3 linked regions of the Homo sapiens genome follow. The protein of the gene in region 2 purifies or fractionates together with the protein of the main gene of each other region. This does not show direct contact. Each region holds a gene or a part of one and is shown on either strand. Other genes may lie near its edges.

What was found. Proteins that work in one complex are often made in the same cells at the same time.
Region 1: the proteins of RSRP1 (region 2) and C1QBP purify together in Homo sapiens (affinity purification with mass spectrometry; 5 studies listed by BioGRID and IntAct, with this or other methods). This does not show direct contact.
Region 3: the proteins of RSRP1 (region 2) and PSME3IP1 purify together in Homo sapiens (affinity purification with mass spectrometry; 4 studies listed by BioGRID and IntAct, with this or other methods). This does not show direct contact.

What each region holds. Positions count from the first base shown.
Region 1 is NC_000017.11:5,432,277-5,436,155, forward strand, and holds the end of C1QBP (complement component 1 Q subcomponent-binding protein, mitochondrial precursor), read right to left. Parts: intron 2,691-3,879; coding exon 2,597-2,690; intron 1,492-2,596; coding exon 1,393-1,491; intron 1,140-1,392; coding exon 1,017-1,139; intron 889-1,016; coding exon 739-888; 3' UTR 501-738; downstream 1-500.
Region 2 is NC_000001.11:25,243,526-25,253,307, forward strand, and holds the start of RSRP1 (arginine/serine-rich protein 1), read right to left. Parts: upstream 3,930-9,782; 5' UTR 3,784-3,929; intron 3,505-3,783; 5' UTR 3,439-3,504; coding exon 2,919-3,438; intron 1,777-2,918; coding exon 1,625-1,776; exon of another isoform or gene 109-1,624; coding exon 25-108; intron 1-24.
Region 3 is NC_000016.10:57,176,040-57,183,039, forward strand, and holds part of PSME3IP1 (PSME3-interacting protein), read right to left. Parts: intron 6,512-7,000; exon of another isoform or gene 5,578-6,511; coding exon of another isoform or gene 5,515-5,577; intron 2,814-5,514; exon of another isoform or gene 2,463-2,813; intron 1,115-2,462; exon of another isoform or gene 1-1,114. UniProt on the Homo sapiens protein: Promotes the association of the proteasome activator complex subunit PSME3 with the 20S proteasome and regulates its activity.

The DNA.
Region 1 (3,879 bases), on a different chromosome or scaffold from region 2:
ATTAGTTCATCTACAGGATTTGATCTTAGCTTGAAGACTATTGATGCTGATGGTTCCCAGGGCAGTTGTTTGAAGGCTGCAGGACAGAGGTCCAGCAATGCCAAAGAGGGGCGGTCATCATGACAAACTACACTACTGAACTAATTGAAACTGGACTCAGGAGACCTCATCTAATGTGTAGAATTCTCATTGATTACAACTTTTATCAGATATCTTTCATGACTAGAATACAATTTAAGCTAATTATTTTCCTGTTTAAACCTAGGCCTGTGATACTTGGGCTGTGATCCTCTAGAGCCAGCTTGGACTCACATCATTCTATGGGGTTGAAGACAACTCATTCCCTCTGAGGAGCCTTGTACATACAAGCCTTTTATTTATAACTTATTTTGTATTGAAACTTTTAAACAATACTGAAGAAAAAAAAACTTTTCCGACATCTGTTCTTGGTCTTTTGTGACGCAGGTTGAAGGGGGAGGAATAGAAAAAGACAAACTGCCTTGGAGGAGATAAACCAATTTTATGTCTATCATGTTATACAAAAATCTAGAAATAATAGATTTGTACAGAAAAAAATGATAATAAATGAGAACACAAAACATATAATTTAAATTTGGTATTTTTTCCCCCATGATATTAGGATGATAATCATTTCAAAGCACATGTCTAGCTTCAGAGTAGGATTTGTTCACTGGCCAAAGCCTGCCATGAAACTATGGCTTTCAGCATCTGTCTGCTCTACTGGCTCTTGACAAAACTCTTGAGGTCTTCAAGAAAAGTAATGTACTCCTGGTGCTCCAGGGCTGTGCTGAGCTCCACCAGCTCATCTGCAAAAGTGTTGTCCACCCCTCGGTCGGCAAGGAAATCCATTAGGTGGTCATATAAGGCCTGCAAAGAACAATATTTACTAGTTAAAAAAAAATCTGTAATGAACATTAAAATGCTTTTTTCTCCCCTTGAACTAGGACCCTTCCTTCCAAGGCCCAAAAGGTTCCCCCACCTTATCAAGCACTCACCCAGTCCAAGGAATCTGTGTTGAGTGTATAATTAGTATCCTTCCATTCAGACTCGCCAGTGGACTGAAAGCTAACTTCCCTGATAGAGAAGATGTCACTCTCAGCCTCGTCTTCTTGTCCAACCTGAGAAGAAACAATATTGGGAAACTGAAGGGTTCTCCAGGACAAGCTAGACTCAGGGGAAGAAAGGGGGCCACTGACAGCATGAAACTCATCAGGTTTTAACCCTCTTCCCTCACTCCCCACCTCTCTCCCCCTGCTGGGCTGGTCTAAGCTAGAAAAGTGTTTAAATTTCTGCTAAAATAGGGACAGGAAGTTCCCAAGGGACACACTGTTCCCCAGGGGTGCCAAGAGGCTAGCACTCCATCCTGCATACCTCATCCTCTGGATAATGACAGTCCAACACAAGGGCCTTCTTGCCATCATCATTCTTTATAACTTCAACCACGAAATTGGGAGTTGATGTCAGTTCAGGCTGGGGAAACAAGAAGTCAATACATGCTGCTGCTGGAAGGAGATGGATGGCTGGATCAAGGATCTCTGTTCAGAGTGTCTGATGGCCACCACTATTAGGATATTATGTAGCCATTTGAATAGTCTTATGCCATACTATTCCCAAATGAAGAGCTTGATCTCACTTCTGTTGGCACCCTGCTTGGTTAAATAACACACTGGGTTTTCAGTTAAGAAATGTGGATACCAGCCTCAGCTATGTGCCAATTAACTGAGTTTATATCAGTCCCTTAACATTCCAAGCCTTTTCCTCCACCCGTACACTGCAAAGCTTTCCTAAAGTTTCAAGATCTCTTTCCAGCTTGACTGTTCCAGGAGTCTTCATAAGGGACCAGGGTCAAAGGCTGGGGAACCTGGCCATCCTTATGGCTGAATAACAGCAGCAGCTTTTCCTCTGATGCGGAGCTCTGGGAGCAGACTGGGTCCAACGTCAGGGAGATGCTAGTTGGGGTGGCTGGGAAAGCAGCACACCAGAGAGCTGCGCCGTCCACACCAGGTCATGACCCAACACTGTACTGATGGCTCTTGGGCAGAATGTCTAGGGACTCTGTGGCCCTCATACTGGCTGGTTACTAGGCTGGGCACAGCACTTCCTGAAATGTTTGAAGAGTAGGCATGATCCAGTTAAAGTCTCTTATGCCCCTGCCATTCTCTCTCTCTTTTTTTTTTTTTTTTTTTTTTGAGACAGAGTCTTGCTCTGTCGCCAGGCTGGAGTGCAGTGGTGTGATCTTGGCTCACCGCAACCTCTGCCTCCCGGGTTCAAGCGATTCTCCTGCCTCAGCCTCCCGAGTAGCTGGGATTACAGGGACCTGCCACCATGCCCAGCTAATTTTTGTATTTTTAGTAGAGACGGGGTTTCACCATGTTGGCCAGGATGGTCTCGATCTCTTGACCTCGTGATCTGCCCGTCTCGGCCTCCCAAAGTGCTGGGATTATAGGCGTGAGCCATGCGACTGGACTTAGAGGAATTTTTTTTTTTTGAAAGACCAAAGAAAAACGCTCCTCCTCTAAGCCCCAGGCACAGCCTGTCAGAACTGAGGTAAAAGCTGATTATAGTATTAGCTTACCTCCTGTTCTTCAACCTTCTGCCCTTGCGAGGGTTCCTCCTCACCATCAAATGTTGGTGGGATGCTGTTGTTAATGTTGAAAGTGACCGTGATTCTAAAACGGCAAGGGAAAACAGACAAGGCAAAACAGACAAGGCATGGTTTTAACCGAGCAGGTTAACACATAAACATGGAAATCTGCTACAGTTAAAAAGGCGTATTGAAACAATGTCTCTGTCCTAGCTGGCTGAATTATATGCAGAACTTCAAACTAGGCTGGGTGCCTACATCCAATCCTGAGTGACTCAGCAGGTCTGAAGTGTGCCTACCATGTACCAGCTGCTGGAAGCCAAAGCTGGCCTCAGTTTATCTCAGCCAAACAAGTCATGCATGGGTTACTCCCAACAGGGCCAGTACCCCAGGGCTCACTGCCATGTGCTGACTGGGCATCTCATGGCCACAGCCAGCTGACACTGCCCACCCTGGTCTTTCCAGGGAACCCTTGGTCAAAGTAAGGACCTGAGAGGCTGGTGAGATGGAACAGAAGCCCCTTTAAGAGACTTTCCCCGTCAGAAAATTTGCCCTGCAAGGAAAGGAAGAAGCGATGGAGGGTGCCTCTGCTAAACACCGAGAGCAGCCCTGGAACGGGGAAGGGAATGCCTCACAAAGAACAAGGGCTGTAGTAGAGACTCATCCCTTAGAGTACTTGTGGGAAGTTTCATAATCACAAAGCAGGCCAGACACACCAACTAGTGACAATTTTAAGGTGCAAGAATCCACACCTGACAAATCATGTTCCAAAGTTTGAGTCAAAATTCTTGGGACATAAGGTTTAGAACCAAAACTGCTGGGCTATGCAACTCTGGCAGGCACCATTCCACACAAGAGTACATGAAGGCTGGGCGCAGTGGCTCACGCCTGTAATCCCAGCACTTTGGGAGGCCGAGGTGGGCAGATCACGAGGTCAAGAGATCGAGACCATCCTGGCCAACACGATGAAACTCCATCTCTACTAAAAAATACAAAAAAAAAAAAAAAAAAAAAATTAGCTGGGCGTGGTGGTACGCGCCTGTAATCCCAGCTACTCAGGAGGCTGAGGCAGGAGAATTGCTTGAACCTGGGAGGTGGAGGTTGCAGTGAGCCGAGATCACGCCACTGCTCTCCAGCCTGGAGACACAGCAAGACTCTGTCAGAAAAAAAAAAAAAAAAAAAAGAGTACATGAAGTGCCGCCCTCCACTTGTGCTAACTAGCTGCTCTGCCAGGAAGCCACCTTTCCATGGCAACAGAGGCAGTCTGAGGTTGA
Region 2 (9,782 bases):
TGTTCAATGCCTGGATATACTTACATTAGAGCTAAAAGCTATGCTTCTTTGCTGGGTAGGTTTTTCATTGGGATTTCGAGTTCCATCTTCTGTTACCTTTTCCGACAGCTAGACAGGTTAAGAAAAAGTGTAATTTTAAAACACATACCCTTGGTTTCTAAATCCTATATTAAAAAATAGCCTAATTGTAAACAAAATTTAGCTGTAGACACAAAAATCAACTTGGATCTAACAGCCTAAGTAACAGAACTATTGAGTTTTCCCCTTAACAAAACTGATTTAATATTAGGCTTAAGACACTCTTCCCATAATTATTTTACTTCCCTGCTGGCAAATTTAAACTAATTTTTTAATCAGTTTTCTCAGGTTGAATCAAGTTCACTTTTGAAATGTAAAGCCACATCAGAAAATACGTTTTAAGAAACTAAGGCATTTGCCAGTTAGGCACCTAATCGTCTGAACAAAGACCTTGTCTACTAATACTGAGCAAACCCACATCTGGGCCCAATTACACAGATTCATTTAGATACAGCATTTTTTTTTTTTAAGCCCCCGAGACGGGAGTCTTGCTCTGTCACCCAGGCTGGAGTGAAAAGTACAGTGCAATTTGCTAATGCACATCCTGCACATTTCTGGAGAATTATAATAAACTTATCTGCAAGTGAAGCAGGCCTCCTCTTCTGTAATCTCTCAAAACATCTGGAATATATTGCATATATTATGAAAGGGACATCTTTTTCACAGATGCCCCACCGTTACAACGTGTACCTTTGCTTAGTTTAAAAATTGACTTTAATACTTTATGCAAATAGTGCCTGTCCCAAATTCTAGCATGCACATGGATCTACCAACAAAAAAACTAAGTTTTCAGTGTGTGAACATAAACTTCAAATTAAACCTCTGATGCTTTAGCCCATGTATCAATTACCAACAGATTTTCTTCATCAATGTCTGCAGACCACATTCATGATTTCTATAAGACAGAAATAGAGCAGATAAACTATACTGTATATGCTGAGTACAGAATTTGTGGGAACATAATGCTGCAAATGAAAGCTACAAACACTCTGTAAATAGCTTAGAAAAACTAGTAATAGAAATCACCAAAGTACCAGCTAATAACGGTGTTATAAGAGTACACTGTTAACTGAAAATGAAAAAAATAAATGTATTTTTTGAGACAGGGTCTCGCTCTGCTGCCCAGGCTAGAGTGCAATGGTGCCATCTTGGCTCACTGCAACCTTAGCATCCTAGGCTCAAAGATCCTCCTGCCTCAGCCTCCCAAACAGCTGGGACTACAGGCATGCACCACCATGCCTGGCTAATTTTTGTATTTTTTGTAAACACGCGGTTTTGCCACATTGCCCAGGCTAGTCTTGAACTCCTGGACTCAAGCCATCTGCCTCATTACAGGCATGAGGCACCATGCACGGCCAAATAAAGCTCATTAATCTCCCATTTTCATGGGTTTGACATTGCCTATCTTCAGATTTGCTACTTTGAATTTAGCACATTATATACATCTCTAGACTTCCCAAAAAGTATAGTCTAAGATATAAGTGGCTAATCAGATTTGACAGTTGGCTTTCTGAAAGTTTTGTTCCGACAAACCTAGAATACTTACTTCAGGCTTTGCACCATTACTTGATACACCTATTCCACGGCTTGTTTCTTTGGCTGAAGGAACAGTTCTGAGACTAGCTGGCAAGTCAATGTTGGTTGTTCCTAGAGCTTTCGCTGCATTGGTTTTTGCTATTTCTAACAGCTCCATTCGATCTAAAAAAAAAAGAGAGAGATTTTAAAATACTCATTAATCTGGTAGTTATTTCCCAAGAGAACTCAGAATTACACAATAAATATGTTATTTTGTGGTATTAAATATATTAAGTCACTTGTTTTATAATAGGTAAACTAAGGTTGCCCTTGAACACTAGTAGCTGCGCTGGTCCACTTTATACTTGTTTTTTCTCCCCCTTACTAAATGCAGATAGAAAGTACCACAGTGTTTGAGAGACTGTAAACCCCAAGTGTGCGCGAGGGTTCCATATGCATCCTGGCACCAATCCCCCGAGTGAACAGAGGGACAACTGTGTAACTTTATTCACTGAAAATTCTATTCTCCAGCTCATTTCTTGCTGAAAAGAATAAAATTCTTAAATTATCTCAACAATTAGTTTTGTTTTCTTGACTAAAGGCCTGAGCGTCCTATTATTTTGTCTTTTTGTTGTACTTAATTTTCTCTAGCTAATAGTGATATTATTTTGCTTTCTCTTCAAAGATGTATTTCTGAAAACCAGGTTTTTCTGCTGTAGATTCTTTATATAATTATCACAACCACTGAACCAATACTGATACACTACTAAAGTGTATTTCTACCACCACCCCCGGCTAATTTTTGTACTTTTACTAGATAGTGAGCTATGTTGGCCAGGCTGGTATGGAACGCCTGGCCTCAAGTGACCCACCCGCCTCCGCCTCCGCCTCCCCAAGTGCTGGGATTACAGAGGTGAGCCGCCGCGCCCGGCCTCCTAGGTCACTTAGGATACTCGACAATCCAATTTTATTCAGTAATAATGTCAACTAAAAGAAGGCGTGTTTTGATATTGTTCTTCCCAATCACGTTAACTTAGAACCTTTAACTTAATCATAACATTTAAAAGGCTCCACCCACTAAGAACAGTCAGCCAATAGGAAAAAAAGTTCCCTACATCCTGAGCCATTTAACATCCAGTTGACCTTTAACCCTAAAGAGAATGCTGTCCACTTAAATACAGGTAATGTCCTCCCTCTTTCCTCCAAAAAGATTTCGGGCACTAAAGGAACTAATATTGAAACTACACAGCAACGTTGGTTCCCTAGCCTACTCATATACTGCCACCATACATTACCACAAATGGAAAGGTAAATGACCCACCCACCTTTTTCACTTAAGCGAAAGGGGGTTCTGCTCCGCGACCTCGTCCTGGATCTGTCCCTCCATCTGCTGTGCTCCTCCGGGTACACTGTGCGACCAAAGCCGTAGTAGCGCTGTCCCCGCGCGATCGCGTACGCCCTTCCGCAGTACGACCTTCCCCGAGAGCGCGACCTGCTACGGGACCGGGACCGGTACCGCGAAGGAGACCGGTAGTATCTCCTGGTGAACCCGTAGCGCCTCTCTCGGTAACGGCGGCTGCGGGATCGCGACCGGCTCCGCGAGTATGACCGCGAGTAGCGCCTGTACTTCCGCTGGTGGCGCCTTCGGGAACGGGACCTGGACTTGCTCCTCCGACTCCTGGACGAAAACCGGCTCGAGACGCGGGAATGGGACCGAGAGCTTCTGGAAAAAGAGCGGCTCCTAGACCGCGACGACAGCCGGCTGGACCCGCCCGACCGCGAGGTCGAGGGCGAATCCTTCTCCTGCGGCGAGCCCGGCCACATGTCGTTCACGTAGTTGGACATCTTCACCTGCGGCTTTAGCCTGCGCTTTCTCCGGAAAGGATCCCGCAAGCCTCAACTCAGGACTTCCTAAAAAACCAAGAGAGAAAAAACAAGTCGAGTCGCGGAAGCCGGCGCCTGGCCACCCGGAAGCCACAGTCGGGGAACCTCCGGGAGGCGGAGCCACGGCGCGGGCGGCGACCGCCGCGACAGGAACCGAGCCCTAGAAACCCCGCTCGGCGCCCTGAGGCCGCGGCCTTGAAGCGAAACGCTGCGTTCCCCAAACGCGGGGCCCGGCACGTTTCCCGTCCCTCACTCCTGAGAGACCACTGCGGTGGTCCTGAGAGACCCCGTCAGCAGAAAACTTACCGCACGCCGTCGACGCCTCCCTCACGACTGAGAGAAAGGCTCAACAGACGCCTTCCTTTCGGAACGTAAGACGAAGTGGGGCTTTTAGTCCCTGCTTTCGAACGGCGAATTCCACAACCTCCACCTCCTACGTCCGGATGCGCACTGAGGGACTACGTTAGCAGACGCGTCAAAAGTACCAGAAGCTGGCCCCCGGCGCATGCGCAGAGATGTTCCGTGGTGGGCGCGGCTCTTCTCTTGCCCAACCACCGCCCTGCCTCCTCCCTCCCCAAGCCGCGCCCTGTGCCTCGAGCGCTTGCCTCCAGGGTGCGCATGCGCGATGGGGCTCCAGGGGGAGGTGTTTGATACATCAGGGTGTCCCGTTGCCCTTGGCTTCCCCCCTGATCTGAGATAATTGCGGGACCGACCCAGTCACCAGAAAACTTCGAAGATGGAACGGCCCCGCGTGGGGCTACACCAGGCTCTGGCCTCACTGCACGGGCGGGGCTGGACGTCAGTGCCGGGCGGGGAGTAGGGCCGGGAGAGGAGCGGCTGCAGGCTGGAGAGGGCTCGCAGCCGGGCTCGGAGCTGGGGCCGTCTGACGGGCTGGTGCCCACAGGGTCGTTGCCGCCACCCACCGGCAAGTCGCAGACCCGGCCTGAGCCTCCCTGGACCCTTCCTGGCCTCTTCCTCCTGTCCTAGGTACCGCGGCGCCAGGAGAAGGCGACCGCGTCCACACCCCGCCATGACAGAGAGGGGACCTCACCCTCCCCCGGAACACCCCAAGACCCCTGGAAATGCAGTATTAACGTAGAAAAGATGTTTTACTTCCATGTTTTGGCTAGGAAGGTAATAAGGTCGAGACAAAATAAAAAGACTCAAAACTGACCTTTAATCTGGGGATAATAATGAAGTCTGCGATATCTCTTCCAAAAACTGTGTTTGGTGTGAGTGTAAACAAAGGTGACTATTTTACTTCTAGGGATCTACAAATGGGATGCATTTCAAACACTTCTTGTAATAAAGCATAACAATTGCCTTGAAAATTGTGGGTTAATTGCCTTTTTTTTTTTTTTTTTTTTTGAGACAGGGTCTCACTCGCCCAGGCTGGAGTGTGGTGGGGCCATCACGGCTCACTGCAGCCCAGGCTCCCGAAGAGCTGGAACTACAGGCATGCACCACCATGCTAATTTTTGCACTTTTTTACCCACGGGATCTAACTGTGTTGCCCAGGCTGGTCTCCAACTCCTGGGCTCAAGCGATTCTTCCGCCTCAGCCTCCTGAAGTTTTGGGATTACAGGCGTGAGCCACTTTGCCCAGCCTATACACTTCTTTACAAGTACATTTTGACAAAAGCCACTTTCTTTAGAGGGAGACACAAACTCACTCATCTCTTGTTCATCTTCACCCCACATCTCCGCAGTTCATCCACATCTCCTGAGGATGCATCATGATGGAAGTAGTTCTTAAACAGTTTCTTCTCTAAATCTCAAGACAGTGAAGATACAATGCCCATCCATCAGAAACCTTTGCCGAAAGTTCTCATAAAGCTGTGTGAGTGGACAGAAAAATAACACGAGGCCAGTCGCGGTGGCTCACGCTTGTAATTCCAGCACTTTGGGAGGCCGAAGCGGGAAGATCACCTAAGATCAGGAGTTCGAGATCAGCCTGGCCAACATGGCAAAACCCCATCTCTACTAAAAATGCAAAAATTAGCTTGACATGGTGGCGGGCGCCTGTAATCCCAGCTACTCGGGAGGCTGAGGCAGGAGAATTGCTTGAACCTGAGAGGCGGAGGTTGCAGTGAGCTGAGATTGCAACACTGCAACCCAACCTGGGCAACAGGAGCAAAACTCCGTCTGGAAACAAATAATAATAATAACAACACGAGTTTCACATTTGACAAGTATAAAAATGATGTGTTGGGGAACTAAAGTATACTTACGATACAGTTTTGAGCTCTTGGTTATGAATAGGAAAGGATGGAACAAGTCTCCGTAGACAGTTCAAAGTATCAGTCAATGTGTGCCTAAAAAATGGTGACCAGAAAAATCCTAATTTTTTTTTTTTAAGACAGTCTCGCTTTGGCGCCCAGGCTGGAATGCAGTGGTGTGATCTTGGGCTCACTGCAACCTCTGCGTACTGGGTTCACACAATTCTTGTGCCTCAGTCTCCCGAGCATCTGGGTTTACAGACGTGCACCATCATGCCCAGCTAATTTTTTTTGTATTTTTAGTAGAGATGGGTTTTCACCATGTTGGCCAGGCTGGTCTTGAACTCCTGACCTCAAGTGATCTGCCTGCCTCGGCCTCCCAAAGTGCTGGGATTACAGGCGTGAGCCACTGTGCCCAGCAAATCCTGGATATTAACAGGATTTTGGAAACAGTGGGAAACATTACTTTGCCCTCGTGCAGAATGCTGGTGTATTTGTCTCAAAAACATACGCGGTCTACCTGAGTTAAAGTCTGCAAAGTCACCTTCCTTTATTTCTCTAAACAGTATATATTCTCTGAGCATCTATCCACTCACCTAATGAAAAAAATTCAACTTTAGTTATTAGAACATCTAGCACCGAATTTGTAGGCTAATGTAGGCAGAAATAACATCTTTACAATAGCAAATCTTCCCATCTAAGAATGTGACAATGTTGTAACCAAGCGAGATAGAGAAACGCCACACTTGGAGACAAATTGTGGAGTCCTTTATTAGCCGGCAACCGGGAGACAGCTAGCGCTCAAAATTCTCTCGGCCCTGAAGAAGGGGCTAGATTTTCTTTTATACTAAGGTCTAAATAGGGGAGGGGGGTTTAACTGAAGCAGTTTTACAGAAGCAGAATAGGCAAAAAGTTAAAAAAGTTAATTGGTTATAGAAGCAGTTACAAAAAATAAACAGTTCCAGGTACAGGGGCTTAAACTATCACTAAGAGATAAATGCGGGGGCTTTAGGTACCTTCCACCGAGCACATTCCCAGGAGCTGCTGGTACAGCTTGCCTCAATATCTTATCAGCAGGTGAATTCCTGGATGTGCTTGGAGTCAGCTTGCACTAGTTACTCCCTTAGGGGGATAAAGAGGGCTGCAAGCAAAGAAACTAAAATGGAGTCTGTCCGGCTCTGTCTGCTAGGAGAGAGTCACTCAGGTTTAAACAAGGTAGGGTATCACAACAAGTTTTAAATGTGCCATTTAAGTTGGTTTTTTGTTTATGTCCTTCATTATGGTTGGCAAACCAATCGCCTCCCAAACATGTCCATTCCCTAATTTCCTGGAACCTGTGAATATGTTACCTTAAGGTGACAAAAGGAATTATGCAGATGTAATTAAGGTTAAGGATCTGGAGATGAGATTATTCTGAAGTATCTGGGTAGGCCCAATCTAATCTCAGGAGAGAGTCAAAGCATGAGAAGAATTCCATGCCCTGTTGCTGCTTCTGAAATGTAGGGGCGGGCCAGGCGCGGTGGCTCACGCCTGTAATCCCAGCACTTTGGGAGGCCAAGGCAGGCGGATCACCAGGTCAGGCATTTGAGACCAGCCTGGTCAACTTGGTGAAACCCCATCTCTACTAAAAACACAAAAATTAGCCGGGCGAGGTGGCGTCCGCCTGTAATCCCAGCTACTCAGGAGGCTGAGGCAAGAGAATCACTTGAATCCAGGAGGCGGAGGTTGCAGTGAGCTGAGATCACACCACTGCACTTCAGCCTGGGCAACACAGCGAGACTCCAACTCAAAGAAAAAAATAATTAAAAAAAAAAAAGAAAGAAAGAAATGTAGGGGCTTATGTGCAAGGGCAGGGAAAGAACTCTAGGGGCTAATGGTGGCTTCCAGCTGACAGCCAGGAAACAGACCTCAATCCCACATCATAGAACTGAATTCGGCCAACACATGGATGAGCTAGTGTTGGGGATCTTCCCCTAGAGCCTCCAAAAAGAAACAAAATGTGACTGACACCTTGACTTTAATCTGGTGAGACTCCTCACCTATAGAACTATGAGATATTAAATTTAGGTTGTTTTAAGCCACTAACATTATGGTTATTTATTACCACAGCAATAGGAAAATAAAACATTCAGTATAATTTATAGTTTTCCTTTTTTTTTTCTTTTTTGAGACGGAGTTTCACTCTGTTGCCCAGGCTGCAGTGCAATGGCTTGATCTTGGCTTACTGCAACCTCTGCCTCCCGGATTCAAGCAATTCTCCTGCCTCAGCCTCCTGAGTAGCTGGGATTACAGGCTTGTGCCATCATGCCTGGCTTATTTTGTATTTTTAGTAGAGACGGGGTTTCTCCATGTTGGTCAGGCTGATCTCCAACTCCCAACCTCAGGTGATCCGCCCACCTCAACCTCCCAAAGTGCTGGGATTACAGGCGTGAGCCACTGCGCCCGGCTCAAAGTTAATATTTTTGTTAATTTTAATGACAAAACTAATTTTTTATCAGGTAAAGGAATCCAAAGATGTATACAAGCTAACGATCATTCCCTAGAGGTATAGAATCCTCTAAAAGAGGTCTCCATCCTTCTTCCTCATATCTTAGAGATAACCAATGTTAACAGTTTAACGAGTGCCCTTCCACAGTTTTCTTCAAGACATGTCAAATATACCCACATATAGATTTTTTTTTTTTTTTTGAGACAGAGTCTCGCTCTCTTGCCCAGACTGAAGTGCAGTGGTGCAATCTCGACTTACTGCCACCTCTGCCTCCCTGGTTCAAGTGATTCCCATGCCCCAGCCTCCCAAGCAGCTGGGAGTACAGGTGCACGCCACCACGCCTGGCTAATTTTTGTTGCTGTTGTTGTTTTGTGAGACAGAGTCTCACTCTCTCACTCAGGCTGGAGTGCAGTGGCATGATCTCGGTTCACTGCAACCTCCCTCTCCCAGGTTCAAGTGATTCTCGTGCCTCAGCCTCCCAAGTAGCAGGGATTACAGGCACATGCACCACAGCTGGCTAATTTTTTTTTTTTTAGTAGAGACATGTTCTGTGTGGGGAGTGCACAGGTACAAGCAAACACACAGCACTCACACATAAGTGCAGATTGTAAACTACTTTAGGTTCATTTAAGTATAAAATAGAAGGTGCATTGAGCAAATAGCAGTGAGGAAAAAAAAACAATCAGCATATATACACTCACCAGACAATGGAGGATTCATCACCAGACCGGGAAGCAACAGCCTAGGCTCCAGAGTCAGCCACTGGTCCATGCACAGAGAAGGAGAGGTCTCGTGGAGCTTCAGCGTAGTCTGGGACCCTGACCTTTTTTTTTTTTTTTTTTGAGACGGAGTTTCACTCTTGTTGCCCAGGCTGGAGTGCAATGGCACGATCTCGGCTCACTGCAACCTCCGCCTCCTGGGTTCAAGGGATTCTCCTGTCTGAGTCTCCTGAGTAGCTGGGATTACAGGCGCCAGCAACTACGCCCAGCTAATTTTTGGTATTTTTAGTAGGATGGGGGTTTCACCATGTTGGCCAGGCTGGTCTCGAACCTCTGACCTCAGGTGATCCGCCCACCTTGGCCTCCCAAAGTGCTGGGATTACAGGCATGAGCCATCGCACCTGGCCTGACCTTTTTATAGTATTCTTTTTGGCATGAGGCCTAGGCACAAGGGCCTTTTGTCATTGGACTCAAGGAACACGGAAAGGTCAGCCTATTTTCAAGGTTTTGTTTATTGCCTCGAGGCAGATGATGTATTTATCAAGAACAATCAGTATGTCCATCCGTTCCTGAGCAAGTGCCCAGGGACAGATTTCTGGCACGTAACCATTCCTTGTGTTCAAGTCCAATTGAGTTCAAATTTAATATTTAACTTTTACTCCACAAGAAGGGGTTTCACCATGTTGGCCAGGCTGGTCTCGACCTCTTGACTTCAGGGGATCTGTCCACTTTGGCTTCCCAAACTGCTGGGATTACAGGCATGAGCCACCACATCGGTGCATACAGAATTTTTGATGAATATGGGCTCGTTCTAAACAAGTTGAAACTTATAATCAACATCCTTTAAGAGAAATCACATAGATCTAATGTGTTTTGGTTT
Region 3 (7,000 bases), on a different chromosome or scaffold from region 2:
CACTTCTGATTTAGCAGCACTCAATGACTCCAGCCAGAGGCTCATTACTGAAGCAGAACTGTTCAGTCTCTGTGAAAATGCCAAAAATTCCTCAAGTTCTACAGAACAACCTCTTATGAAACCAGAGCCAACAATTTCTTAAATGTCTCTGGCAGAGAAAACGTGAACTTTCTAGGGCTCTAATGGTTGGGAGAGACATTCCGAACCCTCAATTTCCCCCTTTCTTATCCCCTATTAACCGTGTCTCCTTTCTCATCCTGTATTAATCATCTGGTTTCTTTCCATCACCCATTTTTCCTAGTAAATAATTCAGGGTGGGATAGTCCTTATAGCCCACCTAATATGATAATCCACTCGACATCTGAATTTACCATACACACCCAGGAGAAGGTCATCCAACTCATATATTAAAACTTCAAGAGGGACCACTGCATTCCCTTCCTAGGCAGCCAACTCCCTCTCTAAGCAGATTTGACTGTTAGGATAGTTCTTCCTTAAACTGAACTGAAATCTGTTTTACTATAAATTCAATACATAGGTTCAATCCACTGGGACTATACAAAAAGAATCAAATCTTTTCTAACATGACCATACTTCAGTTGTTTGAAGACAATTCCCATGTTCCTCCTAATTTGTTGCTTTTCTGAGCCAAACATTCCTAGTTACTTTAATTTTATAAGATGGAGAAAAATAATCATGTCTGAAGGAAATGAATTTATCAGATTAGATATGATTTAAACCTGGGAAATAAATACTAGGATACGGCAATGCCATTGGTGTCCCAGTAAATGTCTCTCTTCATTCTTGTTATATATATATAATTTTTTTTTTTTAAGACAGAGTCTCGCTCTGCCGCCCAGGCCGGAGTGCAGTGGCACGATCTTGGCTCACTGCAACCTCCGCTTCCCAGATTCAAGCGATTCTCCTGCCTCAGCCTCCTGAGTAGCTGGGATTACAGGTGTGTGCTACCATGCCCGGCTAATTTTTGTATTTTTAGTAAAGATGGGCTTTCATTATGTTGGCCAGGCTGGTCTCGAACTCCTGACCTCAGGTGATCCACCGGCCTTGGCCTCCCAAAGTGTTGGGATTACAGGTGTGAGCCACTGCACCCGGCCTATATTTTTAAAAGAGAAAATTTAAAAATCTTCCAATATGCCAAAAACAACAACAACAACAATAAAAACAAACCCTAGAATTTTACATTTCTACCTAAATAAGAATTCAGAGAGCCTCCTGGGCTCAAGCAGTTCTCATGCCTCAGCCTCCCGAATAGCTGGGACTACAGGCATGCACCACTACACCTGGCTAATTTTTTTTTTTTTTTTTTTCGTGAAACAGGGTTTCACCATGTTGCCCAGGCTGGTCTCAAACTCCTGGACTCAAGCAATACAATCTGCCCACCTCAGCCTGCCAAAGTGCTGGGGTTATAGGCATGAGCCACTGTGCCCGGCCTACAATCTTTTATACACAGGGACAAAACCAGAAATCAGTTGGTTAATGAAAATAAGAAATAAAGTAAATGCATATTTAAAAAAAAAATTTAAAGGCAAGCGTTGCAGGGGAAAGAAAAATACAAGAAATGTATTTCTCATCAGCTCTCAGTGGGTTGGTGTCCTGAAAACACAGTCACACTGTCAAAACTAATGCACACTTACAAAAGTCTGCTCTTTAAAACTAATATCTTAATTCAGGCTGGGCATGGTGGCTCATGCCTATAATCCCAACACTTTGGGAGGCCAAGGCAGGAGGACCAGCCTGGGCAACAAAGTGAGACCCCCCATCTCTACAAAAAATTTAAAAAACTAGCCAGGCATGGTGATGTGTGCCTGTAGTCCCAGCTACTCACAGGCTGAGGTGGGAGGATCATTTACTCCAGGAGGCTAAGGCTGCAGTGACCCATGATCGCACCACTGCGCTCTAGCCTGGGCAACAGAGTGAGACCCTGTCTCAATAAATAAATTAATTAATTAGTAATAAAACTAATATCATAATTCTGGCATTCCCTTGATCCCCAAATAAAGAAAATAAGCCAAGTTAGATGGACACACATAGTAATAAATTTCTGTAAGTTTAAAAAGACTAGACTAAAACATAGACTGCTTTATGCATCTTTTTTCAAATTAGCATTTTCTTCTGTAGGTCTTCATTCTCTGCATGGCTTTGCTCAGGCTGTTCCCTCTGCCAGGAATGCCCTTGCTTTCTTTTCACCCGATGCAAACTGCTGCTCCAACCGCCCAGAATCAGACTAAAGACCATCTCCTTTATGAAGCTTTCCAAGACCTCCTAGAGTAGTTAATATGTATTTCCTTCCTTTGTGTTCCTGCTATGATCATTCATAACTCTACTACAGCCCTTATTCTTTGTGTTTTATCATCTGTGACTGTTCCAACAGCTCTTTGTCTCCACAGTGCTTATTATTATTAGCACAGTGTCTGGCATATATTAGGTATTCAAATACTTACTGAATAAACCAACCACGAGGAGCTGAAGAATCTGAGCAGGGAGGAATGAACTCACATGAATATTCCTAGGTACTGTGCAATGTAAGTTATAGAGATTGGTAGCCATCAAGCAAGTATTTGCTGAAGTGTCAGTATCATGGGAATTCTATTCAAACGCCATACAATTTGTGCAGTAAGAAACAAAGGACTAAAAATTAAATCTCTTTACTATATTATATAATTGATGTCATCTTTCAAAAATAACTGCTACTTTCCGTTAATTTCAACTGATTAAAAATGGTCACTTATCCTGCGAAAGCAGTACTTGATGGAGACAGCGTTTTTGTTTGAAGAGTCCAATGGCTGTTTATTCTGCAAGAAAGAGGTGATAAGTACCTGTAACTTACTGACCTGCTGGAAGTAGACAAAGAAGCTAGAAAATTAGATTGTGTTGACTTCTAATTCCTATTGTCTAGGTAAATTTTCACAAGTCTCTTCTTTTTCCCTTTTGTTTGCTAGGGTAATTAAAAACAAATCAAAAGACAAACAGCCCAGGGATATCAGGGATACGGGCTCTAACTGTGAAGAGCCCTGTAGGAATGCAGAGGACTTACATTAGGAATGCTTACTTTGTCCTTACTGTGTTCCACTTTAGAAAGAGTAAACAAATGCTGTCAGCTTTCCTTTACTCACGTTTTCCAAAGTGACTCAAGTTTAATTATCAAACTAAACATTACATTATTTTTTAAAGGATTTATTCAATTTCTTCAAATAGGGAATTCATGGAAAACTAAAACCATTTCAAAATTCACTTTGTCCACCAAACTTAGAGTCCAAATTGGCACAAATAAAGAACGTGGTTTTCAAATCTGCCTGACCGTCAAGAAAACAAAGTTCTTATATTTCAAGCCAAAGTAACTGGTAACACTGAACTACTGGGTTTACATTGGAGACCGTCCCATTTAATTTCCAGGGTGGTGGGACAAAATGGGCTCAGTTCTTACATAGCACACTACACATGTTTTAAAATACAAAACTTACATTGTTGCTCCCCAAATAATTGCTATTCCTAACTTGAAAAATGACTCCATTTAGCTAGTGCCATGACACAAAGTAATGAGATCTGGTTTCCTATGGAATTGAATTATGTGATGGCAAACTACTTGAGTGTTTACATCACTGGCCACCATATCCTTCTAATTCTAAAATTAATTAGATTGTACATGTTAAAACACACCAGAATCAGGTTTCTGTGTTCTGTTGTTTTAAGGCTTCACTTTCAGTAGCAAAAGCAATAGGTCAATCCATTTCCTTTTGTGAGTAAATATAGATTATTGCTTTCCAACATTTTTTACTCTGATGTTCAAGTCACACTGTACTTCAAAATGCAGGACAGCAACTAAGAGGAATTTGCCATCTGGCTAACTCATCTATATTTCAAATAAAGACTTATTTCTGGCCAGAAGGCACTTCTACCAAGATACAGTTATTTAGATTTTTAAAAATTTAGCTGACTTTTCCTATATCATAAAATTTATTTAGAGAACAACAACTACTAACAGAGAGCCCGCTGTTAGTATTTATTACTAGGCAAAGTGAAGTCAATCTTCTAACACCAAAGCTTAATTAACATATTCCGGTAGCAAAGGAGACTAAAAGAATCTAAAAACTAAACCACAGAAAAAGAAATTTAATCCATATTTTAAATGTTTATCATAAGGAGCAATTTGCAATAACCTTTCAGGCATCTATGAAACACATACAATAAAAAATTCAGCTTTGCAATAATCTTTCAGGCATCTATGAAACACATACAATAAGAAATTCAGCCAGGCATGGTGGCTCACACCTGTAATCCTAGCACTTTGGGAGGCTGAGGCAGGAGGATCGCTTGAGGTCAGGAGTTCAAGACCAGCCTGGCCAACAGGGTGAAACCCCATTTCTACTAAAAATACAAAAATTAGCTGGCTGTGGTGACATGTGCCTGTAATGCCAGCTACCTGGGAGGCTGAGGCAGGAGAATCGCTTGAACCCAGGAGGCGAAGGTTGCAGTGAACTGAGATTTCACGCCGCTGCACTCCAGCCTGGGCAATAGAGCAAGACTCCGTCTCAGAAAAAGAAAAAAAAAAAAGAAAAGAAATTAAGGCCTGGTGCACTAGCTCACACCTGCAATCTGAGCACTTTGGGAGGCCAAGGCAGGATTGTTTGAGCCCAGGAGTTCAAGACCTGCCTGGGCAAGATGGTGAGACCCCAACTCTATTAAAAACAAACAAACAAACAAACAGACAAACAGGCTAGGCACAGTGGCTCATGCCTGCAGTCCCAAAGCTGTGGGAGGCCAAGCTGGGAGCATCACTTAAGGCCAGGAATTTAAGACCAGCCTGGGCAACACAGTGAGACTCTCTCTCTACAAAAATATTTAAAAATTAGCCAGGTGTGATGGTGCACTACTTAGGAGGCTGAAGTGGGAGGAAGGCTTCAGCCAAGGAGTTCCAGGCTACAGTGAGCTATGAGGGCCATTGCACTACAGCCTGGGCAACAGCACAAGACCGACCTTGCCTGGCGAGGGGGAAAAAAAAGAAGTTAAAAAAAAAGTATTGATTTATTTATCTTTCCATAGCACAAGGGCAGGGTCTCAAATGTGCATTTATCTTGAATTCACCTATACACACTAGAAGAAAGATAACTAATTTAAATATCGGTTCCCTTAGCTGATCCTCATTCACATGCACCTCTCTGAATATAAATACTTCCCTCACTATGCATGAATGATTGTATTCATTGTATTTTTTACATATTGTGACTCCTAAATACAAACCAACAACTTCATCTGGGGCTCACAGGAAGAAAAACAGCAGTTTTTTCCAAAGCCGAAATAAAACTTGCCTGAGGATATAGAGAAAAAAAAAACCCAAACCAAACCAAAGCATTTTTGCTATTCTCTCACTCAACAATCAACACAGTATAATTCTGTGAGGGATATGTCCCCACACACCAAGCAACCAACCAATTCTGTAGCAGACACCAACCAGCTGGGTGTCCTCTAATTCAGTTCAATTCTGACACTACCTACCTGGATGGAGACCGCGTCAGATCCCATAGGTTGAGGGGTGAGTCCCACAAGACTAGCCTCCATTTTAGATACCAACCACAAGAATCAGGTTGTTTTACCTGTAGTTCTAACCAACTGGCTATTAATCAGGGTTCCCATGACCCCCTCCTTAGGTTCTATTAATTTGCTAGACCAATTCACAGAACTTAGAGGAACTTAGAGGAACACTTTACTTACATATACTGGTTTATTATAAAAGCATATTACAAAGGATACAGATGAAGCAATGCATAGGGCAAGGCATGTGGGAAGGGCACAGAGCTTCCATGCACTCTCTGGGGCACCATCATCCAGGAACCTCTCATGTCCACCTATCCAGAAGCTCCCCAATCCCAGTCTTTTGGATTTTTATGGAAGCTTCATTACTTAGACATGACTAATTAAACCAGTGACGCTGGTGGTCATCAGCTCGTCTGCCTTCTCCTCTCCCCAGAGGTTGGACATTGGTTGAAGGTCCCAACCCTCTAATCCTGCCTGGGTCTTTCAAGTGACCAGCCCCCATGCTAAAGTTACTTAGGGGCTGCCAGCCATCAGTCAGCTCCTTAGCATATAAAAAGACACTAATCATTTTGGAGATTTCAAGGATTATAGGAGTCATATGCCACAGGAGACAGGGATGAAGGCCAAATATGTATTTTACAATATCACACTGGCCATGTCAGAGTTCTGCAACACTGGTATTCCTACAATTAACATGCTGCCTCCCTGAGATTTCAAGGGTAGCTTTGCTTGTAAGCTATTTTGTCATCTAGGCTCGCTTCAGAACCTAACCCACACCTCAAGTCATACTCCATCCTCCCTCCCCCCACCCTATATAACTCCACTTCAAGACCAAATTAAAAACAAAATAAAACAAAAAAACGCAGTCCCAGTTACTCAGGAGGCTGAGACTGGAGGACTGCTTGAGCCTAGGAGTTCAAGGCCAGCCCGGGCAACATAAGGAGATACCCATTTCCCTTAAAAAAAAAAAAAAAAAAAAAAAAACTTTGCATTACAATAACCAGACAAGGCCAACTAAGATTTTTTTTTTTTTTTTTTTTGGCGCAGTGGCTCATGCCTGTAACCCTAGCACTCTGGGAGACTGAGGCAGGTGGATCACCTGAGGTCAGAAGTTCGAGACCAGCCTGACCAACATGGTGAAACTCCGTCTCTACTAAAAATATGAAAATTAGCCAGGCGTAGTAGCACATGCCTGTAATCCCAGCTACTCGGGAGGCTGAGGAAGGAGAGTTGCTTGAACCCGGGAGGCGGAGGTTGTAGTGAGCCGAGATCGCGCCACTGCACTCCAGCCTGCGCGAAGTGGGCGAGACTCCATCTCAAAGAAAAAAGATTTTTGAAGCAAATATTTACCGAGAACCTATTATGTGCAAGATACAATGCTATGTACTAAACAGGCAACTGAGGAACTTACACTCATTCAGTAAAAGACATAAGGTTGGCACACAGC